Regions from separate parts of the Homo sapiens genome. Here region 2 is linked to region 1. A link means that fine-mapping ties the variant in region 1 to the expression of a gene that starts in the linked region. Tissue or cell type: lung. Region 1 holds a variant in brackets; the other region holds the start of a gene. All regions are shown on one strand. Distances are between the middles of the regions.

Evidence for each region. PIP is the estimated chance that this variant, and not a neighbour inherited with it, causes the effect.
Region 2: VEGFD starts here. The variant in region 1 is fine-mapped to the expression of VEGFD in lung (TOPMed, PIP above 0.99).

Annotation. Positions count from the first base shown.
Region 1 is chrX:15,408,927-15,416,926 of GRCh38, forward strand. The region is part of intron 6 of PIR (pirin); the gene reads right to left. The region is part of intron 5 of PIR-FIGF (PIR-FIGF readthrough); the gene reads right to left. Among named protein-coding and RNA genes, the nearest start is that of VEGFD, 29 kb to the left of the region's middle. The variant A/G (reference allele first, on the strand shown) is at 4,078.
Region 2 is chrX:15,381,060-15,389,059 of GRCh38, forward strand. It overlaps VEGFD (vascular endothelial growth factor D), which reads right to left and starts at 3,354. Exons shown (of 7, transcript NM_004469.5): 1 at 2,798-3,354. The coding sequence starts at 2,887. PIR (pirin) reads right to left here. Exons shown (of 10, transcript NM_001018109.3): 10 at 3,740-4,057. The coding sequence ends at 3,945. All of the region lies in intron 9 of PIR-FIGF (PIR-FIGF readthrough), which reads right to left.

The DNA of each region.
Region 1 (8,000 bases):
CTCACTAAGAAAATCTGAAGGATGGCAAAACAAACACACATGAGCAAGTGCCAGAGAATATTTTCCCATCCCCCTATTTCACAGTTTTTCCTCTCTGAGATTTTACTAGAATGAGTTTAAGCTCTCTGAAAGTAATGTTACTTATTCATAGCTTACTCGTTTTTCTCCCTTTTTTTTTTTTTTTTTTTTTGAGACGGAGTCTCACTCTGTTGCCCAGGCTGGAGTGCAGTGGTGCGATCTCCGCTCACTGCAAGCTCCGCCTCCCGGGTTCACACCATTCTCCCGCCTCAGCCTCCCGAGTAGCTGGGACTACAGGCGCCCGCCACCATGCCCAGCTAATTTTTGTATTTTTAGTAGAGACGGGGTTTCACCATGTTAGCCAGGATGGTCTCGATCTCCTGACCTCGTGATCCACCCGCCTCGGCCTCCCAAAGTGCTGGGATTACAGGCGTTTTTCTCCCATCTTAACCCACTCATATTTAGTCTTCCGAGCTTTGTCTACCATCATTTACTGAACATCTACCATGGGCATGTACTTTAGAGGAAGATACAAAAATGAATAAGGCATAGCCGGGGTGTGCAAATTGTGCACCTTTGGCGGGGGGAGGTCCATGGTAGATGCTGAAAACACACACTAATAATTTACAGCCAGATCCCATGTCTTATCTGGATGGGCTGGCTCTGCTGGAGCACTTCTTTCTTTGTTTTCTAATGAATGCTGAGCTTTTCTACTTCTATTTAGCCTGACTTGTAATCATACTCTACAACCAAACCCCTTTCTTCTCTGCTTTTTCAAAAGTTTCGCCACAATTGTTTTTCTTTTTCAGAGCACCAATAGCTTCATTTTTTCTGATTATAAAAAAACACATTAATTTAAAAATATTTTAAGAATATGAAAGTGTGGGACATCTAAACTGAAAATCTTTCTGCAATCTTCATTCCTACCCTGACATAAATATTGTTAGCAATTTGGTATCTGTGTTTTCAGTTTTTTTTTTCTTTTATGCACTATAAGTTATTTCCTTAAAAACTAGAACTAACTCAGGTTGGGCACGGTCACTCACGCCTGTAATCCCAGCACTTCGGAGGGCCAAGGCGAGCAGATCACGAGGTCAAGAGTTCGAGACCAGCCTGGCCAACATGGTGAAACCCCGTCTCTACTAAGAATACAAAAATTAGCCAGGCGTGGTGGCACGTGCCTGTAATCCCAGCTACTTGGGAGGCTGAAGCAGGAAAATTGCTTGAACCTGGGAGGCAGAGGTTGCAGTGAGCCGAGATCTCGCCACAGCACTCCAGCCTGGGCGACAGAGCAAGACTCTGTCTCGGAAAAAAACAAAACAAAACAAAACAAAACAAAAAAACTAGAACTAACTCAATATTCTATTTTGGATACCTTTCCATGTCAAAACATAGAGAAGTAACTCATCCTTGGGAAAAACTGCATGCATTCCATTGTAAGGACATGTCATAATTTATACAACGAATCCTCTATTCACGGTTTAAAGGTATTAAAAAGTGGTTACCACATTTGACAAAACCTCAAAACTCTCAATAGTTCAACCAGGCTTTTATTTGAGTTCATTTTGATTGTTCTAATCTCATTTCTCCTCCACCTGCTTTGCTTCCTGTTCACCCTTCAAGCAGAAATCTAGTCCACAAATAATTGCCTAGATCTGTTTTTTTTCCTTTTTTATCTTTTTACATGATCTGGAAGGACCAAACATTTGCTTAAAGGAATGGCCTAAGTCAATTTACTAAGTGTGTTCATATATTTTTACTCCTTGTAAAAGTCTTCTGCTAGGATATAGTGTCCATCTTTGCCAGTAATAACACAACTCATGTTGCTGATTGGAAAGCACAGAGTGTTAGAGGGCATGGAATAGAAATGAAGGCAATTTACTTTTTTCTTTCTTTTTAGCATGATGCCCATCTGCACTTGCTTCTGTTAATTTGTTTAATTTCCACTAAGCTTTGTTTCTTCAGCTTGCTGCAAAAGAAAACAAATGCCAAATTTCATGAATGCTTACTATATGTTTAACAACAGCCACAGAAGAGATCTCTTGTCAGATTTTCAGGTCCTTCTCATCTTTCTTTCTTCCCTCACCTCTCCTCCCACTTTTATGTCCTGCACCAAGAATTGATGTCATCCCCCAATTTTTATTGCTTTGTCAGAGTTCACACCCTGCTACATTTTCCTTTCTCCTACAAATATGGTCTGCAAGCTACTGTCTCTTTGCAGCTGAAAAGCTCTTCCCTTCCCTTGGGCAGTGATGAATAAAATGAGCTGGGAGGGAGGTCACATTTTCGTTCTGGCCTCCTAGGACAGTTAAGTCAGCAACGCATTTTAAGTCAGACCTCCTTTAGCCAAACATTAAAAACCCAAAACTTTTAAAAAATATGTAAATCATTTTCTGTGGCAGTTGCTCTCATTTCCAGAGAGGCTCCTAATTCTTGCAAACGTCCCTAGTGAGAGCTTTCCTCAGCCTACATTCCTTGCCTTAACCCGGGTCATTTTCCTTCTGCCTCAGTCTTGGAGTTCATTATTCCAATGAACTTACAAGTATTCCTTACACCTGTATGTGCAGAAAAAATAGAAAAACACGGCCTGGTGACACACCAACACCATTAACAGAGATAAGGGCAACTGGGCTAAGGAGAGATTGCAACCCTTCACAAACTCTGGATCACATAATTGCCAGACCGCAAAGCAACCCTGGTCCCTAAGATCCTCCTCCCATACCCGCAACCTCCCCCCCGCCACCGGAAGTCCCCACATCAGCTTTGGCAGGTAACTCCTTCATCTAGGACCTCAACCCTGGCCTCCTAGGACAAGAGGCAGACCTGCCTGGTTCTTCCCTCCCGCTCCTCCTTCCACCAAATTCTTTTTAATTTTTATTTTAAAATAATTTCAGACATATCAAAAAGTTGCAAAAATACTACAGAGAATTATTGTACACCATTCACCTAGATTCCCCCAAAGCTAACATGTTAACATATATGCTTTATCATTCTTCTTGCTATAAATATATGTCATTCTTTTTTTTTCTGAACTATTTGAGAGTAATTTGCAGACATGTAGCCCCTTTACCTTGAAATAATTTTCAGTATGTATTTCCTAAAAACAAAGATATTTTCTTACAAAAGTATAGTGCACTTATGGAAATTATGAAATTAACATTGATACAATGCTACTATCTATGTACGGATATTCAAATTGTGTCAGTCATCTGAGTAATGCTTTTTATGGAAAAGGAGAAATAAATTTCTAGGCCAGGACCCAACCTGCGATCACACGCTGCACTTAGTTGTCATGTCTAATCTTCTTTCATTTGAAACAGTTCCTCAGTCTTTTTCTTTCATTAAAAGTACAGACCAGTTATTTTATAGAATGCCTCTCAGTTTGGGTTTATTTGATGTTTCTTCGTTAGACTGAATTGTTTGCTAATCCCTGTCCCTCCCAGATTTAGAGAATTTTCATTTATTTTCAATACTTTAATTTTTAATTCAGAAGAGCACAAAGGATGAAATAATGAACATATATGTTTGCCATACTTATTTCATATCTATCTTTTCTTTAAGATAAAAACCATACAGGTGAAAAAAAGTCCCCTAACTGGTTGCTGCCAATCCATTTTCTACACGCGTAAATTGCACCTTTTTAGAATCTCCACTTAAAATCCTTCAATGGCTCCCTGTTCTCCCAGGACAAGCCCAAACTTCTGACAGACAAACTCTTCTCAATATGGTCCTACATTTCTCCAGTATCATGGCCTCTCTGCCTGCCCCGCCTCCATATTTAATTCTATCCATGCAACTCTCTCTTGGGGAGTGGGGAAACAAAGCGCAGCAGCAAACCTTAAAGGAGGCTTTGTGGAGAACCACGGAAAACAAACCAACTAAGCAACCATGAAACAGCAACAAAAATGAGCACACACCATTACAGGCAGAAAGTTCCTGTTTCAACATCAGTGCATCACCCTCAGGGAGATCTAGGACCAGACTCTTCATCTCTTCAAGCCTCTTTGCTGGTTTGTAAAATAAGGAATGAATACGTATAACACAGAGCTGTTGTGATGA[A/G]CACAGTCTAATGAGGAAACATCAAACATACTGTTTCTATTGTATGTCTGTATAAACATATATAAATGTCCTTATACATCTGTACATACATATGTGTGTTATATGTTTTTAATCTTCTCTACACAATGCCAGGCACTTAGGAGGTATTTAACAAATATCAGTTCATTTTCCTGCCCCTTTCTTCTTTTTCCACTTTCCTTCAAATCTGTGCATGTGGAGACGTTACACAATTCTGATGAGGCTGTGACCCAGGCCAGAGAAGGGTCATTGCTATGGAGATGGCCCTAAGCTCCCTGCTGCACCCACCTCACACCAAGCCAATTAGTCTCTTCGACTGCGGAGCAAAGCTCAGCAGGGTCATCATTTCCCAAAAGAAGTCTACATTTTTGCGACGTCTCCCAAAACGTCCTCATCAAGAACCTCATGGCATTAAGGATGCTGTCTGTGTCCCACCAAACACTGCAGACTAGAATTGGTGACATAAGTTGGGTTGTCTGATCATACAGCAAGTAACAGCTCACCGTAAGATCTACTAGCTTGCCAAGAATAGGCATTTAACCCCCATCTTATAACTGAATATAAACAGCAAGATAAAGAAATGTCAACTTTGTAACTCCACAATCTGAGAGATAGGTTATTACCTGAACTTGTGAGAATTCCATTGGAAAAAAATGAGAATGCCCGTTTTACCAAATTTGATGAGTGACACCAATAATAAAATGCCAAACTATATAACAAAATGGTATACACATCAAAACACTTGAGACAGTTAGTTTTCCAGAATAAAATAGACTCAGAATGCACTTTATACATTACAGAACGATCATACTACAGGCTGTTTATAAGCCATGGGCATATAACATTAAGAGCCATCCCTCAGGATCCCATATTTTAAGTAAGCACAATTGCAGCCTATAGGAGAACCCTGTCTTATGGTTTGGTCCACATTCATAATACTGAACACTCATTGCATCAGAAGCTAACAGGAAAGCTAAGAAATAAATGAAATTTAACATTTTGAATGAGAAATATATAAGCAATATAAGCTCTCTAGAATGTAAACTCAGAATACAGCCTTCTGCATGCCCAGAATGAAGCCTAGCCCGCTGGAGGGCAAACCCTGCTGATTATTTTCTTGCTAATACAATAGTACTACAAATGTATTAGAATGCCCTAGAAGCTTATTAGAATGCCCTAGAAGCTTATCCTGTTCTTTAAAAAAAGTTTAAAATCGACACATAATAATTGTATCCTGCTCTTTAGAGACTAAGTGCACAATGATGCATTGAGGTTTTCTCATCAAGACATTTAATAAAGTTTTTAACTAAAGTAATATATGCTACTACTATTTCTTGGTTTTATTTGAACAGAACTTGTCTCCTCTTCAGACACACAGTATTCACAACTGATTTTTAATTGCTCAGAAAAAAAATCAGAAAATAATTCAAATAATGTAGACATAATCATAAAATTCTATTTTAGCACTCTAAAACAGAAACTAGTTTAGGCATTCGAACTTAGATTGAAGCCACGTTTATAGACTATTAAGATCTGAAATATACAGAACTTTAAGGATTAAATACATGTTCAAAAAATAATAGAAACCTGAAATTAGCAGGGAAAGTCATAAATAACCCTAAGATTACTTCAGGATGTATTTGGACACCTAACTGTTTTTAAGAGAAAGAGGCCTTTTTTCAAAATTACAGACAGAGTCTCACTTTGTTGCCTAGGCTTGTCTCGAACTCCTGGCCTCAGTCCCCCAAAGTGTGTGGATTACAAGTGTGAGCCACCATGCCCAGCCTGAGAAAAATATTTTTTAAAAGCCCCTGTAAAATATGAAAAAAAATACACCCCTGCCAAAATTGAAACATATTTAAATTCTTAGAATAGGTTTTTAGTTTACATTGATCATCAATTTAACCTGTTTTCTCCTAAAGGTGACATAACAGAAAAACACAACACAATGAGATGATATTACTCATTTAAAATTTTCAAGAATAGTCGTTTTTCTAACCTATGTACAAAATCTTGGATTTATTTACCAATATGCCCAAGACACTACTAATAGAGTACTGTTCACTAAAGGTCCATGTTTTTGTTTGGTGCAGGACAAGATGGCAGTTAAGAGTCCTAGCAGAAACTCAGTCCCATTACTCACTAACTAATTGATATTGAGTAAGTTACTTAATCTCTTTGTACCTCAGTTTCCTCATCTGAAAAATGAGGTAATCATAATCCTTACCTCACAGGGTCGTGAGGATTACAGGTGTTAATTCTTAGGATAGGGAAGGTTCTTAGAGCAGTTTCTGGCAAAGAGTAGGCATTTAATAAATGTTAGCTATAATGATTGTTATTACTATATGATGATTCAGTGAACTGTGAACCCCTTAAAATGTTCATGGCATTCTCCATCATGGATTTTTGCCATTTTTTCCTCTGTTTCAAACCATGTTTTAAAAAATGTAATTGTATCTTACCATACATGAAAACCAATTTCATCAAAGGATACAAAATTTCAGTTAAATAGTAGAAATAAGTTCAAGAGATCTATTGTACAACATGGTGACTACAGTTAATAACAATGTATTGTATTCTTGAAAAATGCTAAGAGAGGGAATATAAAGTGTTCTTATCACAAAAATGATAACTATGTGAGGTAATGTATGTTAATTAGTTAAATTCAGTCATTCCACAGTGTATAAATACTTCAAAACATCAAGTTGTACAAGATAAATACGTACAATTTTATCAGTCAATTTAAAAAACAATTAAAAAAACCATTCCAGGTGAAATAAATGTATCAATATGAAAGGCAAAACAACAAAGCACTTATAGTAGAGAGTACATTTTTATGATCTTGAGTTAGGGAAAGATGATTAAAGAAGCCACAGAAAGCACTAATCATTAAGGAGCCAATTGATACATTTAAGGCATTTTTACTTATTAAAATAGAGAAACATAGTATAGAAAGGTTAAAAAAAAAAGCAGGAAAGACATTTGCAACACAAATAACTGACAATGACTAGTATTCAGAATATATAAAGAGCTCTTACAAATCAATATGAAAAAGACAACCCAGTCAAAGGAAAATGATGTTAAACTTCTTCCTGAATAATTTGATATTTCAGGCTCTGATTCACGTTAATCACTGTTCTGAAGACCTATAGATTTACATCCATAACTGTTATGTATATATTCTAAGTATGAAGGGAACTGTGATTGAATAGTCTAATGTACTGCTGGGAAGTAGAGAGCTCTGCAAAAAAATTACTCATGAATTAAATCGGCTTTTGCGTTCTATGAAAAGACTCAAAATGTAAAATTCTACATGAATCATTCATGTTTGGGGCATTCTCCTTAAAAGTAGAGAAAGACTATGAAAAAACAGGCAAGAAGCCTGTGGAAAAAATCACTACGCATTTTTCGAGGTTTACTCCAGTCATTTTTAAAAGTCACAAATGAGAGAGAGAAAAAAAATCACTACTTGTTTTCGAGTCATTGACCATATGGAAAAATGTGTGGTACTTTCAACCAAGATCATAAGTGTGGAGGTCGACTCTAAGACGTCTGCCTGATCCTGCCTCCCGTATTGCCCTATATAATTCCCTCTCTCTGAGTATGGGCTGTGGCTAGAGTCTTGCGTCTAACCAGTAGAATATAGCAAAACTGATGCAATGTCACTTCTGAGATTAGGTTACATAAAGTCTCTGGCTTCCAACTTGCTCATCTTTGTGCCTTCTGATGAAGTCAGAGGCCATGTTGTGAGTTGCCCTATATAGAGCCCCATGTGGCCAAAAACAAGAGAGCAGACTCTAGCCAGCAACCCTTGAGGAACTGAATGCTGCCAGCAACCACATGAGTGTGAGCTTGGAAGCACATCCTTCCCAGTCAAGCCTTGAGATGACCACAGTCCCAGATGA
Region 2 (8,000 bases), 28 kb before region 1:
TATACACAGTGGATTTGAAATCTTAAGTTGAGATTTTCAAACAGATTTGTCTCAGTTCACATGTTCCATGCACTGCTGACTCCAAACAGCTATCCTTGCAAACACAAGTGGTAAGACTAATGAAATTAGGAGGCCTTACACCCAAATGGCATTAAGCACAATCGTCCAGAGCACTAGTAGCTATTTCATGATTGCTACAGGAAAAAAAAAAATCTTCACAGATACCTAGAACTATCGTAGAGGCAATGCTAGTCTAAGCTGGAAAACTGGACAATCTTCAAAGCTAGAAAGTGAAAACTGGGCTGGGGGTGGCTGGAGGACAACCTAGGAGCAAAATTGGCATCACCATCCATTCTGGAAAAGAGGTGGTTAGAAGAGGGGAGGGTGAGGAGAAAGAAATACATATGGACCAAGTACCGAGGAAGACCATGAATTTCTTATAATAAATAAAACATTTTATTTCAAAAAGTAAAAAAAAAAAAACAAAAAATTCAAATACCACCACCCTAAACCATTACCACCATGAATATGTTTTCACACTACATTTTAATTTTAACAAGAAGAACTTTAACATTTAGAAACATTATTTCCTCTTAGATTTTCTTTTCTTAAAAGTTGGGGAAAAAAGAAAACTATAACCAATATTATATATCTCATTATCCCTTACCACTCAGTCATATCTATGCCAAAACTTCTGTTTAGCTATAGGCAATCCTTTCCTTCATATCAGAAATAATTTAATTGAGCGAGGGGTAGGGTGGATATAAGTTCAGTATATGTAGCTTCACTTTTTAAAGGAAATTCTGATATATTCTGAAAAAAAATTGCTAATCGTATTAGTAAGTATATAATGCTGCATCCTCCACGTGTAACAACTTGTTTTCTGTCACATGCAAATTCAGCTGCTTTCCTTCGTTACTCCATTCAACAAATTTATATATTAACAGTACATTCAAAGCATTTAAAACTTCACAGTGCCAGCCGGGCGCGGTGGCTCACGCCTGTAATCCCAGCACTATGGGAGGCCAAGGCGGGCAGATCATCAGGTCAGGAGATCGAGACCATCCTGGCTAACACAGTGAAACCCTGTCTCTACTAAAAATACAAAAAATTAGCCCGGCATGGTGGCACGTGCCTATAATTCCAGCTACTCGAGAGGCTGAGGCAGGGGAATCACTTGAACCCGGGAGGCAGAGGTTGCAGCGAGCTGAGATTGCATCACTACACTCCAGCCTGGGTGACAGAGTGAGACTCCGTCTCAAATAAATAAATAAATAAATAAATAAAACTTCACAGTGCCCAGGACACCTGAGACATTCTTGGTGCTTGTGCTCTTTGAAAGAGCTGAGCAACCTAAAGAATATGACTTATGTCCAACAATTCAGTCTCCTTTATTATACCATCAGATAAAGTGATGTTTTACAAGGAAAATGGAAATATTTTAAAACTCGAGGAGCCCAGCACATCTAAAGGATTTCTGTTTCATGAACTTACGAAAAAGCTGGACAGTCGGAAAAGTCTTACTTGCTTCAAACAAGTCAGACCGTTTTCTCCTGTTACCTATGCTTACAGTCAGATTCCCATTTACCTACAATCTGGCCTTGAGATCCAATATCAAGGCTGGTGGCAGTAAAATGGAGCCAAACACTGTGATTTCTCCCATGTAAATTTGGAATTTGAGAAGTTAGAAAAGTGCTGGCTGCCAGACAAGGTGACTTCCCACTCACCTCCAGCTCAGTGTTCAACATTTTTAAATATCAGCCCCCACCCTCGCCAGGCCACCAACACCAGCCAGGAGCCTTTGAAGACACTTTCCCCCTATGCAATTTGAATGTATAACGTATTTTAAACTACATACCATATGTACTGTATGTACGTCTGTGCGTGATGTATCAAAAGGGTAAAACTTTTTCATCCCTCCACGAACCAATTTTCCCCTGCTGGGGGCGATATCACCCCTGTTGAAAATGCACGTCCTAAACAACAGCTACAAAAACTCAAACTCACATTTAATTGTCTTTTCAAGGCCAGAAGTTCCTAAATCAATAATGATTTAGCACCACTTCAGTCAAAACAATTACATCCGAATCATTTTCAAAATAGAAGCTTAAAATATATATAATCCATGAAATGCATAAAATTGGGCTAAGTATTGTTCCAGCAGTCAGCAACATTCTGGTTAATTTTTTGCATTACTCTCTGTTCGTTAAGCTCTATTTGATGCTTGCTCACAGAACCAAAGATTTGATTAGTGTTGAATTTTACACCTTTCAAGAAGCGAAAAAACCAAACACTCTCTGAGAAAACATTTTTCTGGATGGCAGCAATTGGTAATTTGCAAAAGCAGATAGAAAATGTTCATAGAAAGCACTGCAATTTTCAATTTACCAAACGAATAAACTAACCTCTGCTGCTCACAAAGACCTGAAAATAAATGGCCCACAAAGTTATCAGTCATAAAAACAAATCAATGTTTCATTAAAAAACCACTGTGCCATCTGCATATGCAACCGAGGAGAAACTTCTCCATCCAAAAAGATTCCAGACTGCTCATGTTCTACCATAACTTCAAAAAACAACCAACCCCCACCCCAGCATTTTCAAATACTCATGGCCAGAAGTTTAATAAGACTAAGAAACAGAACAGTCACCAAGAAATGCAGGATATATCCTGTCCAGTCCACTACTAGGATGGTTCTGCATTTTTATATTGTTTCAAAAATAGTGAGGGCAAAGAAAGTCCTCTGTATGAGCCAATAAAAAGAACTTCATCACATTAAAAATTGAGCTCACCTACCTTCACTGGTCCATGTTCATTACTGGAGCCCTGCACCAGCTGGACGTACAACATCATGAAAACATTCACCACTACCCACTCTCTGTACATTTTGAATATTTCAATATCCACTGATTACTAAGCAGTTGACATCAGGCAGCTAGAGAAAATTGTTTCAAAAGGCATTCTCCAGAAGGAAAGTTTGAAACCTCAAAACTTCACACAGAAAACCAAATAATCAGTTCTGATCAAAATCCAATGAAATTATTTCAATTAGGCAAGGTACGCTTTTTTTGCACAATCTTAGGGGTGGGGAGAGAGAGATGAAAAAAATCAAAATGTTCTCCAAAAATAATCAGAAGGTGGACATGTCTTCTACCTGAAATTAGAAAGCACTCTAAATTTACTTCATGTCCAGAAAATTAAAAAAATCTCTCCAATGTATGCCGCAGGTTCTAGTTGCTTTGTAAGGAGGTGGTGTGGCCACCAATGCTTACAGCTACAGAAAGCTGGAACCCAACTCTGGATTGAAACTTTTTTGCACAACCTTCATGGAAGCTTGCAGAAGCATGTGTCTTAAATCTGACACAGATTTTGGCAGAAAATGCAGAGAAGTCTTGGCTGTAATCCTGTTGCGTCCCTACCAATAGCAGGGCAGTTTTAAGAACTGACTCAAATGTTCAGGGCTGCCGTTATTTTAAAGCAGATAACCTGTAACATGAAACCCCAGCACATAGCTTTGACCTTTGTATCTCAGTGGGATTGCTTAAGAAGGGACCTCAGATGCTCATGCATCTGCTGCCAATGACACACAGAAAGCAATCAAATATGATTTTTAAAACCTGCACATGCACAAAAATAATAAAAACATCCATCCATACATGCAAAAAAAGGCAAACATACACAAAACGACTTTTTAAACAGAAGCTTAGTAACTTAGGTATCTCAAATGAAAAACACTGATTTTTAAAGAAACAATGATTAGGTTTATTTGCATGTGCCAGGAAATATCCTACATTTATTGTTACAAAAACCATGTTATCACGTTAGTGTGGAATTCTTTAGAAGCACCGGCTAAATAAGCTTTAGAAATGGAATGCCTTCAATGGCTCAATCTCAGAAATGGCAAAATTCTAGGACACATCAAGACCTGCTCTTCCGCTTTCCACTAGTTCCCAATCTTTGATTTCCAGGTTTTGGCCCTTTCAAACCCATTTTTTGCGTTTCTGAAATCAAGAATAGCTTGAGAAATCTCTTCATTGGTGTTCATCACAAATGGACCTAGGGCAGAAAGAGACATTCAGAAAGTTCTGGGTGGCAATATTTTCCTCTACCACTAGAAATGATATATATTTCTGTAGTTCTTAATTTAAAACAAAATCCAAGCACATCCGAAGAGTAAAAGTTTATTTTCACAGTGTTCAATCCCCAAGGACTGTAAGATGAGTTTCTTGACTAGGATTGTATATGATTATTGATTATAAAGACGAAACTTCAGATAAATGCAATGGCATCTCACCCATTCAGTATAGGTTTCTCACCAGCAATGGTGATCTTTTTTATTAAAAAGAGTCTTAGATTTGGTTCTATTACAACCAATTTTGTAGTTATTTTTATAACATTAGCTGATGTCAAGAATTGAACCCATCTGATACAAAGAACTGACAAATCTTATCATAGCTTTGGTGTCTAAGCAGCATATAAGGCTGTATACTTATTTGAGGATTCTAAGTCATTTTTTGAAAATCAGCAGCACCTATTGACAATAAACAGAAGATTATAAAAATTTCAAGTCGAAGAGCATCATTTTTTAAAAGTTTTCTAGGGGTTGGCAAATGTTTGCTAGGAAGGGCTAGATAGTATGTATTTTAGATTTTGTGGGTCAAACAGTGTCTGTCTCAACTACTCAACTCTTTCATCAAAGTGCAAAAGCAGCCATAGATAATGCAAAAGTGAATAGGTATGGCTGTGTCCCAATAAAACTTCATTTACAAAAACATGCAGTGGGCAGATGTAGCCCATCGACCATAGTTTGCTGACCCTTTTGTCTAATTGCTGGGTCTGAACTCGGATTTTGCTAAAAATGTACAAGAAGTCCTCCCCTAATCTACCAGGAGGCAATGTGTGTTTCTTCCCCTTTCTTCATATATTGTAGGGGCAGAGAGGCACTGGACTGTCTCACCCCCATGATCTGCTAGATGAACAAGGCCAGCTTTTATATGGCATTGACAGTGTCTTTAGAGCAGTTGACAGACTTGTTCACTCAGTGTATGTCCTCATCCAGCCTGCAGAAGTTCCTGACATTCCTTTTATGGAACTGCCTGCTCTAAGGGGCTTTCTCTGGGAGATTCTGATTAATATACAACTGTATTGCTTAGAGAAAATAACATATTCAAACTTCTTAACCATTGTTATCATATCAACATGGATTTGGTGATCACTATAATTTAAATCTTCAGAAGGAAGACACAGGATAATATGTCTTGATGATGCTGAAATCTTTGGAGAGGATGTGGGGAATAGAATACAAGTAGAAAGAAAACACCCAGGCATCTAAATCCATTCATTCAATTACCTATCTATTATGTACTGAATGCCCATTAAATGACAGACATTGTGCTAGAAGCTAGAGACATAAAGATGAAAGACAAATAAATGGCAGACTCCCTCTCCTCAAGGATTCAAATCTATCACACAGATATGAAAAGAAATCATTACAAAACTGTTTGAAATATGGAAGGATAAAAGTGTAAAAACTATAAAATCAACACAGAAAGGGGGAGGAGGAGAAATCCAGGAAAGGATTCACAGAGGGAGTGATGTTTGAGCAGTCACACACGGAGGAAAGGCATGTTCAGGCTTAGTATGCTGGAGGAATACTGGAGGGGATAGGGGTACAGTGGTGGAAGGAGGGATCAAAGGCGGAAAAAATGGCGATCTGAAATATAGGAAGAAACCAGACCCTTCTGGGCTTTGGATGCAATCTACAGGAAGAAGTTTGGACCTACTTTTGCAGGTGATTATGAATCACTGTAAGGTTAAGTAGGGAGTAATATAATATGATTTATAATTTTTAAAGAAGACTTTGGCATCAAGGTAGAAGAGCAGGTGTCTAATTTGGGAGGCTGAGTCAATGGTGGAATTGTTAAGGGTATTTGAGATACAGGACGTGGGAGGCTTTGGATGGAGCAAGGTGTTCAGTTCTGGATATTTTTTGTTTTGTTTTTCTTTTCTTTTCTTTTTTTTTTTTTTTTTTTTTTTTTTTTTTTTTGAGACCGAGTCTTGCTCTGTCGCCCAGGCTGGAGTGCAGTGGTGAGTGGTGCGATCTTGGCTCACTGCAACCTCCGCCTCCCGGGTTCAAGTAATTCTCACACCTCAGCCTCCCCAGTAGCTGGGATTACAGGCACGTGCCACCATGCCCGGCTAAATTTTTGTATTTTTAGTAGAGATTGGGTTTCACCATGTTGGCCAGGCTGGTCTCAAACTCCTGACCTCAAGTGATCTGCCAGCCTCGACCTCCCAAAGTGCTGGGATTACAGGCATGAGCCACCGCGCCCGGCCCAGTTCTGAGTATTTTAACATAGAAGTACTAGAGACAATAAAGTGGTTTCCCAAGCAGAGGTTTTTGGTACATTGTTGAAACTATGGATCTGGAGCTCATGAGAGAAATTTCATCTGGAAATGGAGGTTTGGACTATATCAGGTAGGAAAGAAAAAGAGAGTTAACATATGCAGAATAAACAATAAACCCAAGAGGGTACCCTGGGGAAGACAACTTTTTAAAGGACACGCAGGGGAAAGGGAAATGCAACTTGGAAGATGGGAGCAGGTACTGAGTCAAGGACCAAATTCTTGTGCCTCATAATTTTGCTATGGTTGGGACTTGTGGAGCAGTACTCCCATCCCCCAACTGTTTTCTGTAAGAATGGTGTGCTTCTAGGCTTCCATTTTGACACTTTCTGGGGTAGTCTGCCATGTTTCTCAATTTATAACGTGCACATGAATCAGCTGGGAATCTTATTAAAATGCAGATTCTGATTCAGGAGGTCTGGAGTGAGGCCTGAGATTCTGCATTTCTAACTATCTCCCAAGTGATGCTGATACTGCTGGTCCATGGACCACACTTTAGGAAACAAGTATAACCTCTGTTATACAGGGAAGCATTGGAAGCTTAGAGTCCCCTAAAGCTAACTGATGAAGCTTATCTCCTCAAATCTTCAAGGAGAAAACTGAATCCAGAAAGCATGTTTTTAAATTGATCAACTACAAGGGTTGTGAACAAGAAAATTATTTGATAGTTACCTATAATTCTCTTTCAAATTATAGCTTTCATCACTTCTCTAATTAAGCCTCTGAAGCCCCCCTCTTGTATAAAATGGTGTGTCTAACCTCTTGTTATGTAGAACTTTGGTATAGTGGAGCGAACATAAGACATGGGGTCAGGAGACTAGGGTTCGAGTCCCAGCTCCACTGCTAACAATCGCTTTCCATTAGAGAAGCTACAGGGCAGAGCAATGGACGACCAGCATGGTAAGAGGCAGAAGGGCAGGGTGTTTGGAAAACAGACAGCCTGAGTGTGAATCCAGCTATGTGACCTTGAGTAAGCCAATGAACCTTTGACCTTCTGCTTCTTCATCTGTAAAATGGGCATGAGAGTACCAACCTCATAGGGTTGTTTTGAAGGTTAGACGGATTAACATTAGGAAAGTGCTTTAACCAATGTCTAGGAAATAGTAAATTCTATGCAAGCATCCATTAAGTAAATAAATAAAATATCTGGATTTTATTTTCCTCATCTATAAAAGAGGCATGACTACATCATGGCTAAGGTTATTTTCTATCCTAACATTCTATGATTTCCTGTGCTTAATCTGTGGATGAATAATTAAGGACACACGATGATAAGAGGAGAAAGGGTCTTAGGTAATTCATGAGATCTGTGCAAGTTCCCAATCAAGAGATGGTTGTGGCTGCCTTTAAACACACATAAGTAAAAGAAAAACTTAAATGTCTGAGTTTTTAAAAGTTAAAAAATAAAAACAAAATGCTTTGCTTCTCAGTAACTGAACTTTCAAGGGACATATTTATTTTGTCTGATTACTCCGAGTTTGTATGTGCAGGCATACCTAGTGTCCCTGTGTTCCAAGCCACTGGGAGAGGATCCACATGACCCCAGTGTAGGGTGGCTTTGAGCAGTCCCACTCCTTTGATCTGTCACCTAATT